Regions from separate parts of the Homo sapiens genome. Here region 2 is linked to region 1. The links come from fine-mapping of genetic effects on gene expression. A gene starts in region 1. The other region holds a variant in brackets. All regions are shown on one strand. Distances are between the middles of the regions. Region 1 holds the start of WBP4 (WW domain binding protein 4). Region 2 overlaps KBTBD6-DT (KBTBD6 divergent transcript).

What was found. PIP is the estimated chance that this variant, and not a neighbour inherited with it, causes the effect. A credible set is the group of variants that fine-mapping cannot tell apart.
Region 2: its variant is the best candidate, but not a certain one, in a credible set for the expression of WBP4 in tibial artery (GTEx, PIP 0.55).

What each region holds. Positions count from the first base shown.
Region 1 is chr13:41,053,028-41,065,112 of GRCh38, forward strand. It overlaps WBP4 (WW domain binding protein 4), which reads left to right and starts at 8,482. Exons shown (of 10, transcript NM_007187.5): 1 at 8,482-8,648; 2 at 9,617-9,689; 3 at 11,989-12,051. The coding sequence starts at 8,647. It overlaps TRE-TTC1-2 (tRNA-Glu (anticodon TTC) 1-2), which reads right to left and starts at 7,782; the gene lies at 7,711-7,782. It also overlaps a transcript of ELF1 not described here. RefSeq lists an enhancer at 612-661 and a silencer at 7,097-7,276.
Region 2 is chr13:41,159,151-41,172,167 of GRCh38, forward strand. KBTBD6-DT (KBTBD6 divergent transcript) reads left to right here. Exons shown (of 4, transcript NR_120423.1): 3 at 3,113-3,253. It also overlaps the pseudogene CALM2P3. Among named protein-coding and RNA genes, the nearest start is that of KBTBD7, 29 kb to the right of the region's middle. The variant C/T (reference allele first, on the strand shown) is at 4,812.

The DNA of each region.
Region 1 (12,085 bases):
CATTTTTCAGAACTGACTCAGAGAAATATTTAAATAATTAAAATCACCAGGCACTGTGGCTCACGCCTGTAATCTCAGCACTTTGGGAGGCTGAGGCAGGAGGATCACTTGAGGTCAAGAGTTCCAGACCAGCCTGGCCAATACAGTGAAATTCCATCTCTACTAAAAATACAAAAATTAGCCGGGTATGGTGGTGCACGCCTGGAATCCCAGCTACTCATGAGGCTGAGGCATGAGAATTGCTTGAACCCGGGAGGCAGAGCTTGTAGTGAGCCGAGATCATGCTACTGCACTCCAGCCTGGGTGACAGACTGAGACTCCGTCTCAAAAAAAAAAAAAATTAAGATCATTAACATTATATTTGACCATTAGTACATTACCAAAACGTAAGGTCCTTATGGTAAAGTACCAGGTCTCTATGGTGAAGTATCAGTGGCAAGGGGGTCAATCAATGATTCATCCATTCTCCTCAGTGTGGATATCACCTTCTTAAATAAGGCACAATTGCTGACCCCAGATGGCTGCTTCAACCCACTTCTGCTTTACTGGTGACACAAATTTCAAGCCCTAAATGGCTACCCCACCCCTTCTGACACCTCTGGGAATTCAAGTGTGTAAGATATTTATAACATTATTGGCTGTAAACAGCTCATCTCTTAGGAAAGTTTTATTTGGTCGTGAGTCCAAAACTGAAACATTTCCTGAGTTGCAGTGAGCAAATAAGTATTTCACAATCACCATTTTATTTTGATTCAAGCTAGTTTATGAAACTACCAAACTAGTATAATTTGTGAGCAGAGTGTCCTTCTAAATAAGTAGCGTAATATAAACCAAACTCATTTGTATAAATACAATTAAGGCAATCCATCCAAAACGTAGAGAACTTTTAACAACTACAACCAAATCCACAAAAAAACGAGGCAAGAAGGCCACTTTCACTTAGCCAAAAAAGGGTGTGGGGGGATGTTTGATATATTTCTCAAAAAATATAACTCTCAAGGATAATACCATATGTCTTATAAAATGGGATGAAAAAAATCAGTACAACAAAAGGGATAAATGACCATTTCACAACAGGCCTACATGCCACAATATTTTAAAAAACCAACCCTTCCATATGAAATTTCTAGAGCAAAGAAGTACCATCTAAAAACCACTCTTGAATCATTGCAGCTTTTTAAAACTACTGGTTCCATTTTAGATTCCCTTTATTTAAAAGCCTCAGAAAAAATTCAGAGAAAAAATTAATTTCAAGCTTTCTATTTAATGAGCATCACTGCATGCACCAACGTGGAAGAACCAAAGCCAGTTCTAAAACAGTAAATCGCAAATGAATGAAACTTTAATTCTTGATGGTTTTAGTCCTGATATTTTGTCCACAGGGTGGCAGTCTCACAGTATTAACTTGTTCATGGAGTCAATGCACAATTTCAGAGTTCGAAAGCCACAGACACACGCAGGTATGCAATAAATTTACTAGCTGGCCAACCCTAAGAGTAAAAACTGCCAGTCCGCTGCAATAAAATCTGTGCTTCATAACTTCTCTATTTCTTTTAGAAATATTTACTTTCTGAAGTCGTAGATTTTTTCCTTCAGTGTTATCTGTTGTATCTGATCCTTTCTATTCTGCTGCCACCACCCTATTTAGGGAGAGAGTAGAAGCAAGGAGAGATGTTAGGAGATTATTATTGGACTGCGGGAAGTCCTTGACCTTTGTCAAGGCCTAATGGAGTGGGAACAGGAAAGGGACAGTGGAGATGGGGAGCACAGACATAATCCTTCCATCCACCAGTTCAACCTGCACGTTACTACCAAATTCATTTCATTAAAACATTCCTCGTATTACCAGAAATCTCTTTTCCTAACTAAACTCCTTAGCTCCAAATCCAAGAGGCTTCCAAAATCTCCTTGTCAAGGGGCTTCGTAAAATAAACTTTGCTTTGCTTTAAATAGACCTTGCTTGCCACTTCTTGATTTTCATTCATTCATTCAAATGTTTTCTGAATGTTTACCAGGTGCCAAGCCCTGCTTCAAGTCTGATGATACAGAGGGAAACAAGTCAAAGCCCCTGCTCCAAAGTTACACTCCTGACAGTGGTCTGTGAGCGGGAGGAGGATATGTCCCCAGACACTTCCAGCTCTCTGCAGGTAAGAGGTATCGTTCTTCCTAAGTATGAGCCATTGGAGGCACACTAGGCATCAGGAGGATAGTAAAAACACATTGTCCACTACAGACCCTAATCTATTTTCGCAGCCTTATTTCCCATTCCTATCCTACCTGCACCCTCAGCTCCATTAAAATGTGCTAGTAACTGTTGACATGCCTCTGCTCCTGCTTGCTTCCTCTCAATGCCTTGTCCCCATCCCTGTCTCTACCAGCAAAAGCCTAACCAGCCTTCAAAGCTTATCTCGAATGCTGCCTCCTACAGGAGGCCTTTCCTCATTCCCCTCACACAAACTCAGATATGGATTTTGAACACTATCAAACACTTATGACCCCTGGCTTAGTCCCCTCTGAGCATTTATCAAACTATGTATTGTATCATAATTATCTGTATACTTACCTAACCTCCTCCATCAGTTATTTAATAAGCACTTACCACATTTGTGGAACTAACTAGGAGCTGAAGTTTCCCCATTAAATTATTCCATTATTATTTTAATTTTTATTTTCTAGAGAGAGGGTCTCACCCTGTTGCCCAGGCTGGAGTTCAGTGGTGCGATCATAGCTCACTGCAGCCTCAACCCCCCAGGTTCAAGCAATCCTACCACCTCAGCCTCCTGAGGAGCTGGGACTACAGGAACGCACCACCACACCAGCTAATTTTTGTTTTTTTTTTTCTTTGGTAGAGATGAAGTTTCACCATGTTGCCCAGGCTGCTATTATTTTAAAACAGGTAATATCCAAATGATAAATGTAAAATCAAGAGAGAAAATATTCTATATGCTTTTTATTGCTTCAATCCCTTTTAAGAGTTTAGTCGAGATAAAACTTACATATCATGAAGTTTATCTATTTAAAGTGTACACTTCAACATTATTTAGTGCATTTATAGAGTTATAGAACTATCACTGTAATCTATTTCAGGACTTTCAATCACCCTAAATTTACTATCCACATTGGCAGTCACCTCACCCCAAACCTCCCTATCCCCTCTAATCCAAGGCAACCACTAATTTTCCCTCTTTCTCTATAGATTTGCCTATTTTGGATATTTCATATAAATGGAATAAAAATGTGGTCTTTCATGCCTGACTCCTTAGTGTAATGTTCTTGTGATTGAGTACCTCATCCCTTTTTATTCCCAAATATTCCACTGTGTGGATACACTACATTTTACCTATTCACTCATCAGTTGAGGGACATTCAGGTTGTTTCTACTTTTTGCTTATGAATAATGCTGCTATAAACATTTGTATACAAGGTTTGGTGTGGGCATGTTTTCATTTCTACTGGGTACACACCTAGGAGTGGAAATACTGGATCATATGGTAACTGTTTAACATTTTGAGGAACTGCCAAACTGTTTTCCAAAGCAACTGCACCATTATACATTTCCAGCAGCACTGTATAAGGGTTCCAACTTCTTTACTATTGTTTGAATCTTTACTACATACAGAACAAGAACGATCTCATATGATATCCTTGCCTTCAGGGAACTTATATTGACAGACTAAGACAAGAAATAAACAGAAACAAATAAACAGGTTAATTTCAGATACTAAGAAAATGAAAAAAATGTCATAAAGTAACCAGAAAGTAACCAAGGAAGAGGAAGTCTCAAGCTAAAGTGGTCAGAAAAGATCTGAGAAGGTAATGTTGACCTGAGATGTGCAGAGCTACAGGGGGAATATTCCAGGCAAAGGAAAAAGGCAAGAAACAAAACTCCGAGACAAGGATAAGTTTGGCATGGCAAAAAGGAAGCCTACGTAGCCAAGATACAGTGAAGTGGTAGATAAGGTAGGACCTGAGGTTAGATGGGTAAAGTCCAGATAATGTTGGACCTATGAGACCATGATAAGGTCTTCGGATTTTAGCTGAAATGCAGTAATTGCTTTAAAATCCCTTCTACTTCTTTAAATACCAGCGTTCATCTCTGCAAACATTTACTGAACTTTCACGTCTTTTTTTTTTTTTTTTTTAAGAGATAAGGTCTTAGGGTCTTGCTCTGTCACCTGGAGTGTAGCGGCAACATCACAGCTCACTGCAGCCTTGAACTCCTGGGCTCAATGGATCCTCCCACCTTAGGCTTGCAAGTAGCTAGGACTACAGGCATGTGGCATCACACCTGGCTAATTTTTTTTTAATTTTATTTTTGTAGAGACAGGCTCTTGTTATGTTGTCCAGGCTCTCTCACTTTTTCTCTTTTTTTTCCCCCCACCCCGAGATGGAGTCTCTCTCTGTCTCCAAGGCTGGAGTGCAGTGGCACGATCCTGAGATCCTGGCTTACTGCAATCTCTGCCTCCAGGGCTCAAGTGATCCTCCCACCTTGGCCTCCTGAATAGCTGATACAGGTGCAGCGGGTGCCACCACGCCTGGCTAATTTTTTGTATTTTTGGTAGAGATGGGATTTCGCCATGTTGATCCACCTGCCTCAGCCTCCCAAAGTGCTAGGATTACAAGCATAAGCCACCACACCCTGCCTCTTTCATGTATCTTCTAATTACACCTAACAGTAGCAAATATTAAAGAGGTTATTTGGGTAAATCCACAGCACTCAGTGTCACTAATTTATGGCCCAAGAGACAGCACCTAAAATATGCCTGCCAATGGCACAAGCGTTAAGAATGAATCCTCACAAACTGATTACCTAGCCTTAATCAATTTAAGATATACGTCTTACTGACAGTAGTGAGCAGCTCTGTCTTCGAATACCAAGGTCACTTTCAACAAAGCAAGACAGATTATTCTCACACTTTAAGCCTAGATTTCATTCCTATAAAGTGAATTCTAATTAACTGATTGCTTTTCTCCATTCTATTAATTACAAATTAATATTCAACTCCTAAACATAAAATGTACGGACACAAAATATTCTACATGTTTCTTTATTGTTTGAATCTTTTAAAACAAGAATTTTTCACATGCCACTGCTACCTTTGGGTTTTCCAAGAGACAGAAATGGTTTAAAAATTTTTGTGACATAAAATGTCACTCCTTGATAAAAGAACCTGTTACCTAGTCAAAATTTATCAAGTTAAAATTCCTTTCTACATTCCCAGCTTGATCTCCCATGGCCCTCCCTGCAGGCACTCTGTGCTCCTGCCAAACCGACTACTTGCCAGCCTCATACTTGTTCCCCCTACCTCAGCTTTATGATTCACATTCCCCAACAGGAGAAATCCAATCAGTTCTTCAAGGTCCACTCTCCCCTCTAGGTCTCTTCTCCAGTCCTCTCCCTTGAGCAGAACCGATTCCTCACCTCTGTTACTCCAGTAGCACTTCTACAACTCAGATGTTGCCTTACCATATTCTACGTAATGCACAACTACACGAAAGATAAATCTGTGTTTTATACAGAGATGATGCAACTACTTCCTTTGTGTTCACCCCCAGGTATATAGTACAACTATTTGCAATTACTGAGTGCACAGTTGAAAATAACATCCATTTTAGCACCATTTGGTACAATGTTGTAAACTCATTACAAAATACAAGGTCAAGGCCTGGCGTGGTGGCTCATGCCTGTAATCCTAGCACTTTGGGAGGCCGAGGTGGGTGGATCACCTGAGGTCAGGGGTTCGAGACCAGCCTGGCCAACATGGTGAAACATTGTCTTTACTCAAAATACAAAAATTGGCCACGCGTGGTGGCGGGTGTCTGTAGTCCCAGCTACTTGGGAGGCTGAGGCACGAGAATAGCTTGAATCCGGGAGGCGGAGGTTGCAGTGAGCTGAGATCGCGCCAATGCCCTCCAGCCTGGGTTAACAGAGCGAGACTCCGTCTCAACAAAAAAAAGAAGAAAAAGTCAAAAGTTAAGCCCTCTCTGGGGACAATTAAGGCAGAGTTATCCGAGTTATCTTTCCTTCTTTCCAAATTTTCAACTACTGTAATTCTTTAGTAACTGCTTCTTAATAATGACACACTATTACTTATTTAAATGAAAATTCCACTTTCATTATCTATTCAGGAATCGCTCAACAATTCTTGTAACTCTATTTAAAATTTGTGAGTGATACGTGTTATCAAAAATGTATGGCTCTAAAGCCAGAGAACAGAGAAGGTGAAAAGTCTCATCACACAGCTAATCACAAAGACCAAAATATTATTCCATTCAGTATTCTATCCACTAGCTAACATAAAGAATACAAACATCAGTAACTTCAAAAGCATGTGGTGGTGCTTGGTGTGTAGCAAACACACAAATATTTGAATTAATGAAGACGATTTAAAATACTTAGGCTTTTTCTTTCTTTTTAACAAGGTAAGCCTAATTAATCCTTAATCACGCAGATCACATTAACAAATTTACTGTGCAGTTAAAGCTACAAAATAGTCTGGGAACACACATACTAACAACCAAAACATCTGCTTTCAGTAATGGCACTGACCAGAAACCCATCTACAAGAGTCACTTTTTCCTTCTTCGTTTGTTCCCAGAGGCCCAATAAACATTATAGCCGACCCTATTTTCTAATTTCAGCTTGCATTTAAGATAACGCTTTTGTTTCATTTACAGCTCACATGCTGCTGACACAGCTGTCCCTTCTTTGTAATAAACACAGGGCTTCTATATTTAAAAATACAGTGAAACTTTGTTTTAACGTCCCCTCCCCAGTCTCCAGCCAATTTTCTCTTTCCCAAGCCCCACCTCCACCCCAGGATGTTTTGCCGTTGTTTTAATCAATTTTTTTCTTTAAATCAACCGCGCTCAAAATGTTAGACCCTTTGGAAAGTCGATATACTTATTTAAAGCCATCTCATCAGAGTGGTATTTTTCTCCTCCATAGCTCGTGGTGTGTATTTTTAAAGGGAAAGAAAAAAGATTCTCGTTCCCAAAGGCCTTTTTTCGAGGGTACTTTCCGTGACTGCGACCAGCGCCCCTTAAGTCAAGTTGGGAAGACCTCGCAGGCCGGCCTCGCGCTTGCTCAGGCGCCGCGGGTGGAGACGCGAGCGCACACGCGGCGGAAAGGGGCGCCGGGCGGCTGCGCGGCCGGGAAAGCGCGTCCCCCCGGGAGGGCGCGGAAGGCACACTGTGTTCCGTGGGGCCTCGTAAATACCCTGCGGCCAGAGAACCACTAGAGCTACTGGTCCGGGCGCGGGCTCTGGGGCGCCCAGGGCAGGGGGGTCAGCCCGTCCTGCATAGGAAGAGTCGCAAGAGCGGCTGAAGAGGGTGTGGGCCGGACGGGGGCGCTGGGAGGAGATAACGCAAGGCCGGAGTTAATCATCACCTCCCGGGCGTCTGGAAAACTACGGGCCGGAGGGGCGGGGGAGCAGCCCAGGGGAAAGTGAAACTCCCTCAGGGCCCACCAGCCCCGTGAGCCGGAGGCGGGAGGGAGAAGGATCGGAAGCGCATTCGCTTCTCCAGCAGGCACGGCGTGGCACTCGAGGCTCCAAAAGCCGCAGCCCAGCTCCTGGCGCCACTAACTACAGTAATGCTTATTTTCTACAAACTCACCCAGACGGGGACAAGAAAGGAGCCAGAACACAAGATTTAAAAAGTCAGCCCTCCAAACCGATAGTTGCAAAAAAAAAGAAAAATAAGGAAGCGTTCCCATACCGGGAGTCGAACCCGGGCCACCTGGGTGAAAACCAGGAATCCTAACCGCTAGACCATATGGGAAGTGCTATGAGAAACTGCCGTGACCCACCTGACAAGCATAAGTGCCTCTGCCTCCTTCGCCGCACCTCTCGCCACCGCCGCCTCTGCGCTACTGAAGCTGCTGCTGCCGCCGCCGCCGCCGCCGCCGCCGCCGCCGCTGCTGCTGCCCACACGCTCCCGAGCTAGGGAACAAGCCCCATCCGAGCGCGTGGGCGTCGTAGGGGAGAGGAGGGGCGGGGCCGCTCCGCTGCAACAGCAAAGTTTGAGGCGAAGCCTAGCGACTCGCAGCGCCGGTCCCGCAGTTTCACCTCTTTTTTTTTTAACTCCGCCAGAGGACCCCGACCCACAGGTCCCGGTTGCTCCGCTGGTCAAAGTGCGTGCGGAGTAGTTGGCAAAGTTGAGAGCGGAGACGTCTCTGGGAACAGCTGTTTGCGTTCCGGGCGGAGGCGGCGCGCTGAGCTCCTTGGCCTTGAGCCAGCGAGCCTAGAAGGAGGATGGAGGTTTTGGGCCCCAGGGGAGGACACAGAGACGGCGGGATGGCGCAGGGACTTGAGGCTTGAGATCCCGTCCTTCAGCTCAGGTCCCGTCGCGCTTTTACCCCTTCCCGGTGACCTCAACCCCTTTATACCGACCCCACCTCTTTGGAGCCGGGAGTACCGCCCCTGTAGGGGGAGGGGAGAGGAGGCGATTTCGAACGCGGATTGGATCGTCTGGGCACCCGTAGTTGGGAACAGCGGAACGCTGGTCCCGGGGACTGAGTAAGGTGTCTGGATCGGAGGGAGGTTCGGGTGGGCATCGGGCGGCTGGAAGAGCTCGACTCGTCCCGCTGGGAAAGCGCGAGTCTGAGTGGAACCCTGGACGACTTGCAGAGCGGCTGGCGCAGTCATGTGAGTTGGGTCTCAGGCCCTGAACAACGAGGTGTTGTTTCTCTGGGCCGCCCTTTCTCGCCCGGGTCTTCCCCTCCTCTCCTCCCGCCCTTCGGCCGGGGGCGTGACAGACGCGTTCTTAACTCGCTCGGGACCGGCCCCAGACCTGCAGGGCCGGTTCTCAGGGCGGGGTAGAAATGTTACCCCGCTGAACGCCCTGGGGTATGGGGCACGGGCTCTAGGGGGAGGCCGGCGGCCGGTTCAGGGGGCTGGTTGGACGGCCGCGGGTGAAGCGACGCAGTGCTCTCTCTACGACGCTGTCGGGGGTCGCATGCACCCCTTGGGTTTCCGAAGCCCCTGAACCCTAGGGTATTGTGAAACTAGGGCTGGGCTGCGGCCTCCCCCGCCCACTGGAAGCGGCCAGCCCTGGATAGCGTAATGGTTTTTTTTTTTTTTTTTTTTTTTTTTTTGTCGGCCGTCTACGAAGTCCCATGGCTTTTCCAGTTCTCTCTTGCCTTGAGGCTCAAGAACAGTTTGTTTTAACTGAGAGTCTGGGAGGAACTACAGTTTTCCCCAGAGTAGTCTTGTACGTTGTTCTCTTGGTGGGAATAACTTGATTTAAGGCAAACTTTATGAGTTTCTTCAGGTTTCCATTACAGCAACCTCCCCCAAAGCCAGAAAGGATAAATGTTCTTCTAAGATGTTCCTTAGTTTTTCATAACGATGACGATAACAAGTGAGGAATTTTTGAAAGCCATTTTATTGAAGGGAGTTTTGTAATGAATCAGATACAGACTTTTTCTACTCCGCTGGCAACAGAATTTCAATTGACTGTGCTCCAACCAGATAAATAATAAAACGACTATACATAACAAGACAAGATTCAGTAGCAGGGGCATATATTTCAAACTTTAAAAACTGTAAAGCATGCAGAATTTAACCTTTTTTAAGTTTTACATGAGCTTAGCCTTGTTGTCTCTCTTTTTCAGGGCGGACTACTGGAAGTCACAGCCAAAGAAATTCTGTGATTACTGCAAGTGCTGGATAGCAGACAATAGGCCTGTATGATAATTCCGCTGTTAGAGATTCTAATAATAATTGTGTTGAATGAAGTGCTCCTTTTTGATGTAAACTCAGTTTACAAAGCACTTTTATGTACATTGCTCTTGCATTTTCAAAACATCAGAAGATTTCTGTCTTCTCAGTCCCCTATGAAAGCTGTGAGCCTTCTTCCTTTTCATCAACCTGACTTTGATTATATATTAAATTATTTCTCTGTGGCCTTTTGGGAAATGGGCAATGAGTTGGTCATATCATTCATGTTATGAAGCACCTATATTATAATGGTGGTGTTCATAATACTGTCATACCCAAAGAATTGTGGAAAGCCCTTAAAAAATAAAAGCAACATGTTTAGTTTTTCTTGTATATTTTGTGGTCTAGAAATAATCAAGTGTATTTAATGCAGAGCTGTGTATCTTTAGATGCTTAAATTTGAAAGAACACCATTATTTCCTTTCTCATGAAACAAAGTAACAACTCTGTTAGGTATGTTGTTAGTCTGTCTCATAGTTGAGATCCAGTTTTGAAGATGTAAAGCAAAAAGCACACCGCTGATTTTTCTCCCCTCTTGCATGTCAAAATACTATGTACATACCACATAAACACTAGGGTATCTGTTAAATATATTTTATGTTGATACCGTTTTTACTTGGCAAAGTTGGATGCACAAAGAATAGTAGTCTCATATTTTAACAATGCTGTGGATTTCTTCTGTAGACATTTATTTCCTGTTACCTGCAAGGTGTTTAGGATTTGGATTTTTTTTTGATGTTTTGGTCTTTTTGGATAGTTGCTAAAGTTCTTCACTATTTTACCTAGGCTATCCTTATAAATAAATACCATGAATTTTTAAAACCACACAGGTCACTTAAAGTCTCTCTTTCTTGGAGGTACCTAGGCTGTAAAATGAATTTTGTGAGTTATCTAGAGTAAGTAATCCCTTCCAGTGTAGTCTGTCTTTATCTTCTTGAGTTGGTAATACACATTGATTTAACCTTTAATTAGAAACAAAATTAATTTAATTTTGAATGGTCCTTTAATATTGTATTCTTTGTGTAGTGTAATCAACTTTAGGAAACGCAATGTATGAAAAACAGGAGGATTATCTGCTTTACAAAGTCACACTTTAAAGATGAATTCATGGTAGTATTTTAAAATAGCTCAGTTAATGCATCATGTAAGATTTGATTGACAGAACTTATTTTGCAGAGCTTGTGAGGAATTTCTTACTGCATTTAACTAGAAACTTGTAATTTAGGGAGCATTTCTGATTGTTTAAATAGATAATTGCGCTCACTCACCAGCCCCTGTCCCCAGTCATCTAGTGGCCATCACTCCCCATAGGTTATCATTTTTTTTTTTCATTTTCTTGCCTATCCTTCCATTGTTTCTACATGCATGTAGACACAAGTTCTTATTCCAGCATACATAAAAGGTAATGTACTGTATATATTATTCTGCACTAGTTTTAAAAAATTTAACAGTATGTAACTGGAGCTCCCTTTGTATCCATACATAAAGAGCTTCTTTCTCTCTGTTACAGTAGACTATGAGAATGTACCATAGTTTAACCAGTCAGTCCCTTAGAGATGGATACCGTATTGTTATTGCAAACAGTGCTGCAGTCAGTAAGCTTGTGTATATCATGATTTTGTACATGTGCAGGTATATCTATAGAATAAATTACCAGAAATGAAATTGCTGTGTCAAAGGGTAAATGTATTTGTAGTCTTGATAGATATTGCCAAATTATCCTCCATAGAAGTTGTACATTTTGAACCATTACCACATTGTATAAAAGTGTTTGCTTATAATTTACGAGGAATCTTAAAATACATACTTTTCTCCTAAATTTAAGGAATAAAGCAATAAAATCATTGTTCTCTATGTCCCTCCTTGTGACAAATAGAGCAATAAAATTCTAAAGGCTTTTGATGTTGAAAGTTGTTTAAGATTTTTTTCCCCAGTCTTTTGGCTTCATGTCACGTTTGAGTCCTCATTACAATCATAGTCACTAGATTAGTCATCAAGGGTACCTTGTATTTTTCTCCATTAATAAGGTCATCATGGTTTATTTTAAGAACCAAAGGAAACCTAGTCAGAGGACATAATAATAAACAATGTAGTTCCCTAGCATCATTTGATTAAAAGGGCCAATTTGCATTAAATTAATGTTTTCATCTTTTCTGCCATTCATTTTAATTTTAATTTTCTCATGTTTATGAGAAAATTATGTTTACTATGAATTTTATGATGTTTATGTAGTTTTCTTTTGTTATTTTCTCTTTTCATTTTCAAGAGTGTTGAATTTCATGAAAGAGGAAAGAATCATAAGGAAAATGTGGCAAAAAGGATCAGTGAGGTAATTTAGATTGTTTATTTGCTAATTTTTCTAT
Region 2 (13,017 bases), 110 kb after region 1:
TTGCAGCTTTCTGTTTAGGAACAAAAGGAAGGCCATTTTTGCATGAATCTGTTCCCAAGCTTTATGTTTACCTTTGGCATTGTGATTTGGGGGACTTAAGATTTTATTTTCCTTTTAGTTATTGTTATCTATAAAAGCTAAAATGAAAGTAAAAGAGAGTGCCTGGTTGGGGCTTGAGCCTGGACCAACCTCAGATATGGGTCTGTCTGAGCTCAGATTCTTAGCCTCAAATCTACCCACAAGGGAGAAAAAGTATGCCAGCACAACAGAAAGTACCTTTGATACTTGTGGGTAGTCAATGTGGCAGAAGGGCAAAAGCAAGCAACAGTTGAAACCATAGGGTATAGTATGAAGGAATCATTCCATTTTGTACAACAGTATCAGCAGCTCCCTGAGGAACTTTTACCAAAATGGATTATGAGAGTAACTAATTTGGAAGCAGTGGCTTTGGTTTGAAATGCTGCACAGTGGAAAAACATGTTTGGGTGATGCAGGACCCACAGGTCACTATAGAACAATTGCAGATTCATATATATGATCCAGACACATAGGTTATTCCTGAGAGAAGAACTGGGCTGGTGGACTGGATAAAAGCCACTGTAAGATCTTTTTACCCCGAAAAGGGGGTCTGTTCAACTCCCCCTGTAAATACCAAGTTGGGTAATTCAGATGAAGCATGTGCAAGCCATGTGGGATTGGCTTTATGAGGACCAGTATATTCACCCACTGAATATGCCTGTTACCCAGGTTATGGTAAATGCTGTGGTTAAGGGGACCCCTTCTACACGGGTACTGTCAGGCCTCTGAGCCCAAGCCAAGCCATCGCATCCCCTGTGACTTGCATGTATACGCCCAGATGGCCTGAAGTAACTGAAGAATCACAAAAGAAGTGAATATGCCTTGCCCCACCTTAACTGATGACATTCCACCACAAAAGAAGTGTAAATGGCCGGTCCTTGCCTTAACTGATGACATTACCTTGTGAAAGTCCTTTTCCTGGCTCATCCTGGCTCAAAAAGCACCCCCACTGAGCACCTTGCGACCCCCACTCCTGCCCACTGAGCACCTTGCGAACCCCACTCCTACCCGCCAGACAACAAACCCCCTTTGACTGTAATTTTCCTTTACCTACCCAAATCCTATAAAACGGCCCCACCCTTATCTCCCTTCGATGACTCTCTTTTCGGACTCAGCCCGCCTGCACCCAGGTGAAATAAACAGCCATGTTGCTCACACAAAGCCTGTTTGGTGGTCTCTTCACACGGACACGCATGAAAGGTACCACATGTAATGACATCACTCCTGAAAAATGGAACAAGAGTCCTAGAAGCCTTATCAAACTTGTTGTCTCAGCTTTCCTTGATGGGTCTTACAGGTATTAATTTTAAAAGTTAGGTTAATTAACAAGAACATGGTGAAGGTTAGAGCAGAGAGTCAAAAGACTCCTCCCAGAAGGGTGTAAATTTTTAAATGTTTATTAAGAAATAAGATGAATAGTCTGGGCACAGTGGCTCACGCCTGTAATCCCAGCACTTTGGGAGGCTGAGGCAGGTGGATCACGAGGTCAGGAGTTAGAGACCAGCCTGGCCAACATGGCGAAACCATGTCTCTACAAAAATACAAAAATTAGCTGGGCGTGGTGACAGGCGCCTGTAATCCCAGCTACTCAGGAGGCTGAGGCAGGAGAATCGCTTGAACCCGGGCGGTGGAGGTTGCAGCGAGCCAAGATCACGTCATTGCACTCCAGCCTGGGTGACAAGAGCAAGACTCCATGTCAGAAAAAAAAAAAAAAAAAAGAATACAGAGAGCATTGATAAGGGTGAAACTAAAAGGAAAAAGAAAGGGGAGAGTCATGGGACTCATCCCAGCAGGGTAAACATGTTTAAATAGTTATTAAAAATGGGATAAATAAAACAAATTGATGGGGTTAAAACAAAGGTCTTAATACAACACTATCAAAGAGGGAGCCCTGCCTGTCTACAAACATTATAGAGCCCAAATCAGTTTTCTGTATTTGCCCCAGATTTGTGAAATTTAAGAAAAAAAATCAGAAGGTAAAGATTACAGTGAGAAAGCTGACCAAAAATTGGGGCAATGTTGAGGCAGTTAATCAAGATAAGGATTGACCAATGAGCCCAAGTGCCTTGGCTCAGCTCCCTGTTGGGAACTCAGATCCTTTTTCACAAGAAAGGGTAAAATGGTCTAGGGTGGAGAAAAAGTTTCCTGGGACTACAACATAAAATGTAAGGGTCAATAGGATTTTAAGAGTTAAAATGTTTGAACAGGCTTTATGTAAAGTAGCTGTGTCTCCTTTACCTAAATGTTTTCTGGGAATGGACATTGTATATGACTGGAGGATGATTCCCCTTCCTAGTACTGTGAACTAGAAAGCATGTAAATCTTCCCTTTGAGCAATACTAATTGGACATGCTCAGTGGGAACCAGTAAGACTGACCAAGCCCACAAAGTATAGAGTAGAAGCTGAAGTGCTGGTAGGGAACAAATTATCCACTGGATAGCTCCTTGTAGAATTTTTATTGGGGCTTATGGCAAAAGTCTATGAGCACCTTCACTAGAGAATTTTCATTTGGGGGTATTTGCTGCCTTGTAATTGGATGTTAGCTGAAGCTACTGCTATGATTGAAGGGCATAAAATGGCCTTGACACCTGAAATAGTAATGTCTGAATGTCAGAGAAACACTCTAATGAGGATAGCAGCACCCAAAAGGGTCCCACCAATAAAATGGGAATGATTTGTGTAGTATCCTGCTATTTGAAGGATGCAAGGAGGAGATAGGAGCAGGGAGTCTCTTTTTCCCTAGGAGTCACTCTGAAACTGTGTGAGGGGCTGCTGGATTCTACAGTGCCCAATAAACAGCTCTCACCTGACTGACAAAGAGCTGCTTGGTTTGTGGATGGCAGTTCCAAGGTGAAAGGACAATATCCTGTTTGGAAGGCTGCTACTCTAATTGTAAAGTATACTATTGTGAACAAAATTTACCTGTCTCTCTACCTGATATCTCCAAAACTGGAAACTATTCATATATTCGTATGACATGGGAATACAGTTATTTGCATAAGTTCAGTAAGAATCTGTTTTCTTTTGTAACAGGACACAATTGGAGACACAGGTTCTTCTATCAAGGCCTTGACTGGAATGGCATATTTTCAGATATGACCACATTGCTTTGAGGAAATGAGGCTGATGTTGCAGAGCTGATAAAACCCCCACAGAAAGGCCAGCCTACCTCTGGTAAGTAAAAAATGTCACTTTCTGGCAGGCCCAGGAACCTCAAGTTATTTTTGGGCCTCAAGAAGAGAGGAATACACCCATTCATACAGGTATGACAGGCACAATCGGATAGCGAATCCTTGACTTGGTTAGCCTCAGGGCTTATAGAAGTCTAATCTGAGATTCCTTATGAAAAGTGTCCCAGTGAAGCCATCTTAAAAGGAGCCAATATGGCCAATCCCTGCACTTTATGCAAATAGTCAGGTCAAGTTAATGAGACTAAATTTATTTCACAAGTAAATTGGCCCTACTTTGATTTATCCTTAGTAGAAATGGGAAAACTGTTGAGAAAAACTATGTTTCAGAAGAAAACTATAGTATGCTCATTATTAGACTGTAGCCTTAATGATTGTTTCTGAGTTTTATTATTTGCCTATAATTCAAACTGAATCCTGAATTATTTCCTGGCTACAAATTTCTAAAGAAAAACCGAGATTTAATTGTCTTCATGCCCTTTTTTATTATAATCCTTGTGTGCATTATATTTCTACTATTCAAATTATTAATGTTATATATCTCTACTTTTACTTCTTCCAAGAAAACCAAAGTCACGGTATTCCAATGACTAGAGATGACAAACCAAAGCCTGTGAATCTCCCTAATTTGGAATGCTACTGGGTCTGATCTGTTTTCCCTGCCAACCCACTGCTGCTAAAGTTGTGCAATGTCAAGCACTTTCCCTAAAGGCCCAGAAGAGGAGGGTGTGTGAGATTAAGAGGGATGGAGTGTGGGGGCTAAAGCAACTCCATCTTGGATGTTGATCTGCCATATTGAGTTCTGATTAACCCCATTTCCAAAAAGGCCTCTAAGGTTTTTTTTTAATTATTTATTTTGCTTACTGTTCCTTGTGTAAGATCATGTACTTACCTTAAGTCCTGCCCTTGAATAATTTTCCTACACATCACTTCTGTATCACATATACCCTTTCCCCATGGTATATAGGCCTTGGTTCTGGGTGTAATGGCGTGGGGATCCACCAACCTGTCTCCACACTACCTGAGACACAGACATGGTTTCTATTCATAAGTCACTATTAAATGTTTCTGTCAGGTGCAGTGGCTCACACCTATAATCCCAGCACTTTGGGAGGCAAAGTAGGAGGAACACTTGAGGCCAAGAGTTCAAGACCAGCCTGAGCAACATAGTGAGACCCCCCTCCTCCCTTTACAAAACACAAAAAAGTTAGCTGGGCATGGAGACACATGTCTCTAGTCCTAGCTACAGAGGCTGAGGCATGAGGATTGCTTGAGCCAGGAGTTCAAGGGTGCAGTGAGCTGTGATCATGCCACTGCACTTCAGCCTAGGTGACACAGTGAGAGCCTGTCTGGAAGGAAAGAGAGAGAGAAAGGAAAGAGAGAGAGGAAGGAAGGAGGGAAGGAAGGAGGGAAGGAAGGGAGGGAGGGAGGGAAAGAAAGAGGGAAAGAGAGAGAGAAAGAGAGAGAGAAGAGAAGACAAGACAAGAGAAGAGGCCGAGCATGGTGGCTCACGCCTGTAATCCCAGCACTTTGGGAGGCCGAGG[C/T]GGGCGGATCACGAGGTCAGGAGATCGAGACCATCCTGGCCAACATGGTGCAACCCTGTCTCTACAAAAAATACAAAAATTAGCGGGGCGTGGTGGCGCATGCCTGTAATCCCAGCTACTCAGGAGGCTGAGGCAGGAGAATTGCTTGAACTAGGGAATTGGAGGTTGCAGTGAGCTGAGATCATGCCACTGCACTCCAGCCTGGTGACAGAGTGAGACTCTGTCTCAAAAAACAAGAAAGAGAGAGAGAGAGAGAAGAAGGAGAAGGAGAAGGAGAAAAAGAAAAGGAAGGAAGGGAGGAAGGAAGGAAGGAAGGAAAGTTTCTTCCTGAGAAACTGGATATGTAAGCCTCTTTCTTTGAATTCTCCGCTTCCTTGGAATTTAGTGGTTGGTTTGCATAGGCTTGCTCACTGTGAAATTCCACTGTGTGGAATTGGTGATTGAGGTGAATTTCACATAATGTAAAATTAACAATTTTGAAGTGAACATTTTATTTGCCTTTGAGGTTAATCCTTGTTGTAGAGTGTATCAGTACTTCATTCCTTTTTATGGCTGAATAATATTCTATTGAATAAATATGCCACATTTTGGTTTTTTTCACTCATCAATTGATGGACACTTGGGATGTTTCCACCTCCTTTTGGCTATTGCAAATAGGGCTGCTATGAACATTAATTCGTGTACAAGTATTTGTTAAAATACCTGTTGCCAATTCTTTGGGATATATACTTAGAAGTGACATTGCTGGGTTATATGGTAATTCTATATGTAATTTACTGAGGAATTAACAAATTGTTTTCCTTAGAGGCTGAACCATTTTACGTTCCCACCAGGAATGTACAAAGGTTTGAATTTCTCGACATCTTCACCAACACTTGCTATTTCCCCATCTCATCCTTTTTAGTAGCCATAGTTGTATAATTATACCCATTTCTAGTGGGTATGAAGCTGTATTTCATTGTGGTTTTGATTTGCATTTCCCCAATGACTAATGATCTTGAGCATCTTTTCATGTACTTGTTGTCCATTTGTTTATCATCTTTGGAAAAATGTCTAAGTCCTTTGCCCATTTTTAAGTTGGGTTGTCTTTTTGTTGTTGAGTTGTAAGAATTCTTTACATATTCTGGATGTTAGACCCTTATGAGATATATAATTTGCAAATATGTTCTTCCATTCTGTTGTTGTCTTTTTACTTTCTTGAGAATATCCTTTGACAAACAGAAGTTTTTAATTTTGAGAAAGTCCAGTTTATTTTTTATTTTGTTGCTTGTGTTTTCAGTGTCACATCTAAGACTCCATGGCCAAATTCAAAGTTATGAAGATTTACCCCTAACTCTTCTGAGAGTTTATAGTTTTAGTTCTTATATTTAGGTCATTGGCCAATCATTGCAACTTAATTTTTGTATATGGTATGAGATGGGGGTCTAATTCCATTCTTTTGCATGTGCATATCCAGTTGTCCTGTACCTTTTATTGAAGAGACTGTTCTTTCTACCAGTTTTGTCCTTAGTTTACTCTTCTTTTTCCCCTGTTCTTTAAGGAATAGGGTTAGGTTATTGATTTGTGCTCTTTCTTCTTTTTTAATGTAGGCAGTTGCAACTATGATTTCCCTATGAGCACTACTTTTGCTGCATCCTGTAAGTTTTGGTAGGTTGTGTTTTGCATTTAATTTATATAGTACTTTCATATTTCCCTTGTTGATTTTTTTCTTTGATCCATTGGTTGTTTAAGAGTGTGTTGTTTAATTTCCATACATTTGTGAATTTTCCATTTTCCTTTGGTTATTGATTTCTAGCTTCCCTTCATCGTGGTCAGAGAAGATACTTTCTATGATTTAAGTATTTTAAATGTATTTATCGTTATTTTGTGGCCTAAAGTATGATCTATTCTGTAGAATGTTCCATGTATGAGAACAGTGAGGACTCTGCTCTGCTGGTAGAGTGTTCTATATGTGTCTAGTAGGTCTAGTTGATTTACAGTGTTCAAGTCCTCTACTTACTTATTCATGTGCTATTTAGATGTTCTGTTATTTTTATTTTTCTCTTTTTTTTGTTTTGTTCTATCTATTATTGAAAGTGGGTTATTAAAATCTCCAATAATTATTGTAGAACTAGTTCTCCTTTATTTCTGTTAACGTTTTCTTCACATATTATGGGGCTCTGCTGTTTGGTGAATATATATTTATAATTGTTACATCTTGGTAGTGAATTGACCCTTTTATGAATATATAATAATATCCCTCATTTTAAAGTCTATTTGGACTGATATTAGCATAGCCACCCCAGTTCTCCTTTTGTTACCATTTGTATGGAATATCTTTTTCCATTATTTTACTTTCAATATATTTTATTTCAATATATTTTACTTTCAACATATTTGTCTCTTTGAACTCAAAATGTATTTTTTGAATCCATTCTGCCAATCTCTGCCTTTTAATGGTGAGTTTAATTTTTTAACATTTAAAGTGATGACTGATAAGAAAGCAATTATTTCTATCATTTGCTATTGTTTTCTACAAGTTTCATATACTTTTTGCTCCCCAAATACTGTCTTTTGTGTTTGTGTCTTTCGTGTTTTTTAAAGTGTACCATTCTGATTCCTTCCTCAGTGTCTTTTCTGTATATATTTTAATTATTTTTTTGTGAGTACTCTGGTGATTACAAAAAACACCCTAAATATATAAAAATACAGTTTGAGTTGGTATCAACTAAGTTTTAGTAGCATACACAAAATCTATTCCTATACAGCTTTGTTATTGTCACAAATTGCATCTTTTATACATTGTGTACCCATTAGCATACTTTATAATTACTGTTTTCTACATTTGTCTCTCAAAGAACATAGGAAGCAATAGGGTACAGACTGGGCTCACAACTGCAATCCCAGTAATTTGGGAGGCCAAAGCAGGAGGATCACTTGAGGCCAGGAGTTCAAGTCCAGCCTGGGCAACATAGCAACACCCCCATTTCTACAAAAAAAAAAAAAAATTAGCAGAACATGGTTGTGTGTACCTGTAGTCCCAGCTACTTGGGAGGCTGAGGTCAGAGGATCACTTGAGCCCAGGGGTTTGAGGCTGCAGTGAGCTGTGATTGTGCTACTGCACTCTGGCCTGGCTGACAGATTGAGAACCTGTCTAAAAAAAAAAGAAGAAATTAGAAAATAAAGATATAGGAGGCCGGACTCAGTGGCTCACGCCTGTAATCCCAGCACTTTGAGAGGCCGAGGCGGGCAGATCATGAGGTCAGGAGTTTGAGACCAGCCTGGCCAACATGGTGAAACCCCATCTCTACTAAAAATAAAAAAATTAGATGGGTGTGGTGGCACGTGCCTGTAATCCCAGCTACTCGGGAGGCCGAGGCAGGAGAATTGCTGAAACCTGGCGGTCAGAGGCTGCAGAGAGCCGAGATTGGGCCACTGCAGGCATGAGCCACCATGCCCACCCCCCACCACACCCTTTTCTTTCTTTCTTTCTTTCTTTCTTTTTTTTTTTTTTTTGACAAAGTCTTGCTCTGTTTCCCAGGCTGGAGTGCAGTGGTGTGATCTCGGCTGACTGCAACCTCTGCCTCCTGGGTTCAAGCGATTCTTCTGCCTCAACCTCCCGAGTAGCTGGGACTACAGGCATACACCACCACACCCAGCTAATTTTTGTATTTTTAGTAGAGATGGGGTTTTACCATGTTGGCCAGGCTGGTCTCAAACTCCTGACCTCAAGTGATCCACCCGCCTCGGCCTCCCAAAGTTCTGGGATTACAGGCGTGAGCCACTGCACCCAGCCAGCACCCCGCCCTTTTTTAAAAACCATGAATGTGTGTTGGAATTTGTTACATGCTTTATCTGTGTCAATTGATATGATCATATGACTTTTTAGCTTGTTGATCTGGTGGATTACATAGATTTCTCAAATGTTGAACTAGCCTTGGATGCCTGGAATAAATCCCTATTGGTCAAGGCTATGAACTGCATGTTTGTGTCCCCTCAAAATTTATATGCGAAACTCTAACTCCCCGGTGTTAGGAGGTAGGACCTTTGGGAGGTCATGAGGGTGGAGCCCTCATGAATGGGAATAGTGCCCTTATAAGACAAAACATGAGAGAGTTTATATCTCTTTCAGCCATGAGAGGATACAGTGAGAAGAGGGTGATCTGTAAACCCAGAAGAGTGCCCTCCCCAGACACTGGAACTTCTAACACTTTGATCTTGAATTTCCCAACCTCCAGAACTATGAGAAATAAATGTTTGTTCTTTATGCCACCCAACATTTGATATTCTTGTACAGCAGCCTGAATTAAGATAGTCACAGTGCGTAATGTTTTGTTATTTTATTCAGTTTGCTAATATTTTGTGGAGGACCTTTGAATCTATGTTCATGAAAGCTATTGGTATGTAGTTTTTTGTTTTTTTGTTGTTGTTTTTATTTTTTTGTACTGGTTTTGATATTTGGGTGATACTAGCCTCACAGTGAGTTGGGGACTGTTCTTTCTTTCTGGAAAAGATTGTGAAAATGCATTGTTATCTCTTTGAATGTTTTGTAGAATTCTGCAGTGAAACCATCTGGGCCTGGGATTTTTTAGGAGATTTTTTAAAATAAATTCAGTTTCTTTAATGGTTAATATAGGGCTACCTAAATTATCTATTTCATCTTGGTTGTGTTTGGTAGTTTGTGGTTCCTCAAAAGGCTTCATTACTTCTAAGTTTTCAGTAAAAAAACTGTTTTAGAGTATAAAACTTTGTGTAATATTTTCTTATTATCTTAGTGGCTACAGGATATGAAGTGACATCCCCTGTTTTATTCCTCATATTGGTGATATCTGTTTTCTCTTAATTTTTGTGACTCTTGAAAGAAGTTTGTACATTTTATTGATTTAAAAAAGAAACAGGCCGGGTGCGGTGGCTCATGCCTGTAATTCCAGCACTTTGGGAGGCCGAGGCAGGCAGATAACGAGGTCAGGAGATCAAGACCATCCTGGCTAACACGGTGAAACCCCGTCTCTACTAAAAATACAAAAAATTAGCCAGGCATGGTGGCGGGCGCCTGTAGTCCCAGCTACTCGGGAGGCTGAGGCAGGAGAATGGTGTGACCCTGGGAGGCGGAGCTTGCAGTGAGCCAAGATCGTGCCACTCCATTCCAGTCTGGGCGACACAGTGAGACTCCGTCTCAAAAAAAAAAAAGAAAAGAAAAAAAAGAAAGAAATCGTCTTTTACTTCATTAAATTTTCTTCTCTGCTATTTCTTATTTCTAATTTTATTAATTATTGTTCTGATCTCTATATTATTTCCTTCCTTTTTTTTAAGAAAGAGAGACTCTCACTCTGTCACCCAGGCCGGAGTGCAGTGGTGCGATCATAGCTCACTGCAGTCTTGAACTCCTGGGCTCAAGCAGTTCTCCTATCTCAGAGTAGCTGGGACTACAGGACACACCACCATGCCTAATTTTTAAAATGTTTTGTAGAAATGAGGTCTCGCTATGCTGCCCAAGCTGGTCTTGAAATCCTGGCTCAAGTGATCCTCCCTGCCTTGGCTTTCCTAAGTGCTGGGATAATAGGTGTGAGCCACCAAGCCTGACCTCCTTCTTCTTGATTGCTTTGGGTTTATTTTCCTCTGCTTTCTCTAGTGCCTTATGGTAGGAGCTTAGATTGACTTGAGTCCTTTTCTCATGTTTAATGTAAACATTTAATGCTACAGTTTTGCTCTCAAAAATCCTTTAGCTGTATCCAACATGTTTTGGTATGTTGTATTTTCATATTCCTTAAGTTTCATTTTTAACTTGAGATTTTCCTCTTTGTCCCAGCAATGATTTAAAATTTATGTTGTTCAATTTCTCTGTGTTTAGAGAGTTTCCTGTTGTCTTCGTTATTGATTATCTGTTTGATTCCAATATTGTCAGGAAACATGCTACGTATACTTTCATTTATTTTGCATTTGTTGAAGTTGTTGTATGGCTCAGGACATGGTCTATCTTGATGAATCTTCCATGAACAATTGAAAAAAAAGTGTACTCTGCTTATTGGGTGGAGTGATGTGTCACTCCATGATTGGTTGATTATATTAGTCAGATCTTCTATATTCTCGCTAATTTACTGTCAGTAGCTTTGTCACTTGCTGAAAGATCATGTTGCATTTTCCAATAATAATTGTGGAGTTGTCTGTTTTTCCTTTTAAGTCTATCAGTTTTGCTTCATGTATTTTAAGACTGTTTTTTGGTTTATACACATTTGAGATCATTAAGTTTTCCTTGTCAATTGAATTTTTCATTAACATGTATTATCTCTCTCTGTCATCTCTACCCTAGTAGGTTTTTTTTTTTTGCTTTTATTTATTTATTTATCTATTTTTAAATTTTTTTTTGAGATGGAGTCTTGCTCTGTTTCCTAGGCTGGAGTGCAGTGGTGTGATCTCGGCTCATTGCAACCTCCGCCTCCTGGGTTCAAGCGATTCTCCTGTCTCAGCCTCCTGAGTAGCTGGGACTACAGGTGCCCACTACCATGCCCGGCTAGTTTTTGTATTTTTAGTAGAGATGGGCTTTCACCATATTGGCCAGGCTGGTCTCGAACTCCTGACCTCGTGATCCGCCCACCTCAGCCTCCCAAAGTGCTGGGATTACAGGCGTGAGCCACCGAGCCCCACCCCATGCATATTTTTTAGACAGTAGGGAGAAACCTTTTACAGATAAGTTACAAACAAAGAAAAGGCAAATAAACAATTTTGTACAAGAAATTTAACACATTCTGTACAAGTTGTTCACTTTGCTGTCATCATTTGTACAAACTCTTCATAGATCATTTGACCATCACCATCAATATGTGGTTACCTGATCATTTCATCAACCTCGTCATCTGTTAAATTCTCTCCAAGGTTTGTCATCACATGGTGAAGTTCTGTTGCACTAATATAGCCATTGCCATCCTTATCAAACACACAGAATGCATCTCTAATTTCTTCTTCACTGTCTGTGTCTTTCATTTTTCTTGCCATCATTGTTAGAAATTCAGGGAAGTCAACTGTGCCATTACCATCAGCATCTACTTCATTAATCATGTCCTGTAACTCTGCTTCTGTGGGATTCTGCCCAAGAGACCTCATTACAGTTCCTGATTCCTTGTTGTTATAGTTCCATCACCATCTTTGTTAAATAGTGAAAAAGCTTCTTTGAATTCTGCAGTCTGCCTTTCAGTCAGTTGGTCAGCCATGCTGCAAGCGCTACCAGTTTCTGAGATGTGACCACGCAGCCACTCAGCTTGCTCACTCGCTCGCTCCACTCGGACTAATTCCTATACATTATTTTTTTTGAGTCGGAGTTTTGCTCTTGTTGCACAGGCTGGAGTGCAGTGGTGCAATCTCAGCTCACTGCAATCTCTGCCTCTCAGGTTCAAGCAATTCTCCTGCTTCAGCCTCCCCAAGTAGCTGGGATTACAGGCATGTGCCATCATGCCAGGCTAATTTTGTATTTTTTTAGTAGAGATGGGGTTTCACCAGGTTGGTCAAGTTGGTCTCGAACCCTGACCTCAGGTAATCCACCTGCCTCAGCCTCCCAAAGTGCTGGGATTATAGGCGTGAGCCACCGTGCCTGGCCTATAATTTTTGTTTCAATAATCAAATATGATTTATAAAATTCATGGTTTATGAAACATACCATTGTATGATTTATAAAACATGCTTTTGTATATGTTTGTATTTCTGCTCTTTCTGTTGTTCCTTTTTCCTTCCTAATCCTCTGAGATATTTGATCATTTATTTTCTATTTAAAGAACTTTCTGTAGCCAATCTTTAAGGATAAGTCTGCAAGCAACAAATTCTTTTATTTTTCATTCATCTGAGAATTCATTCCTAGAGAATAATTTTGGTAAATGTGAACTTTTCAGTAGAAAGTTATTTTCTTTTAGCAATTAAAAAATGCTGTACCAGCTGGACGAGGTGGCTCAGGCCTGTAATCCCAGTGACTCCACAGTCCAAGGTGGGAAAATCATTTAAGGCCAGGAGTTTGAGGCCAGCCTGTGCAACATAGCAAGATCCCGTCTCAGGGAGGGGGAGAGGGAAACTTAGTTGGGCATGGTGGTGCTCACCTGTAGTCCCAGCTACTCAGGAAGCTGAGGTGGGAGGATCACTTGAGCCCAGAAGTTGGAGGCTGCAGTGAGGCATGATTGAGCCACTTCACTCCAGCCTGGGTGACAGGGTGAGACCCACTTTGTTTAAAAAAAAAAAATAGCTG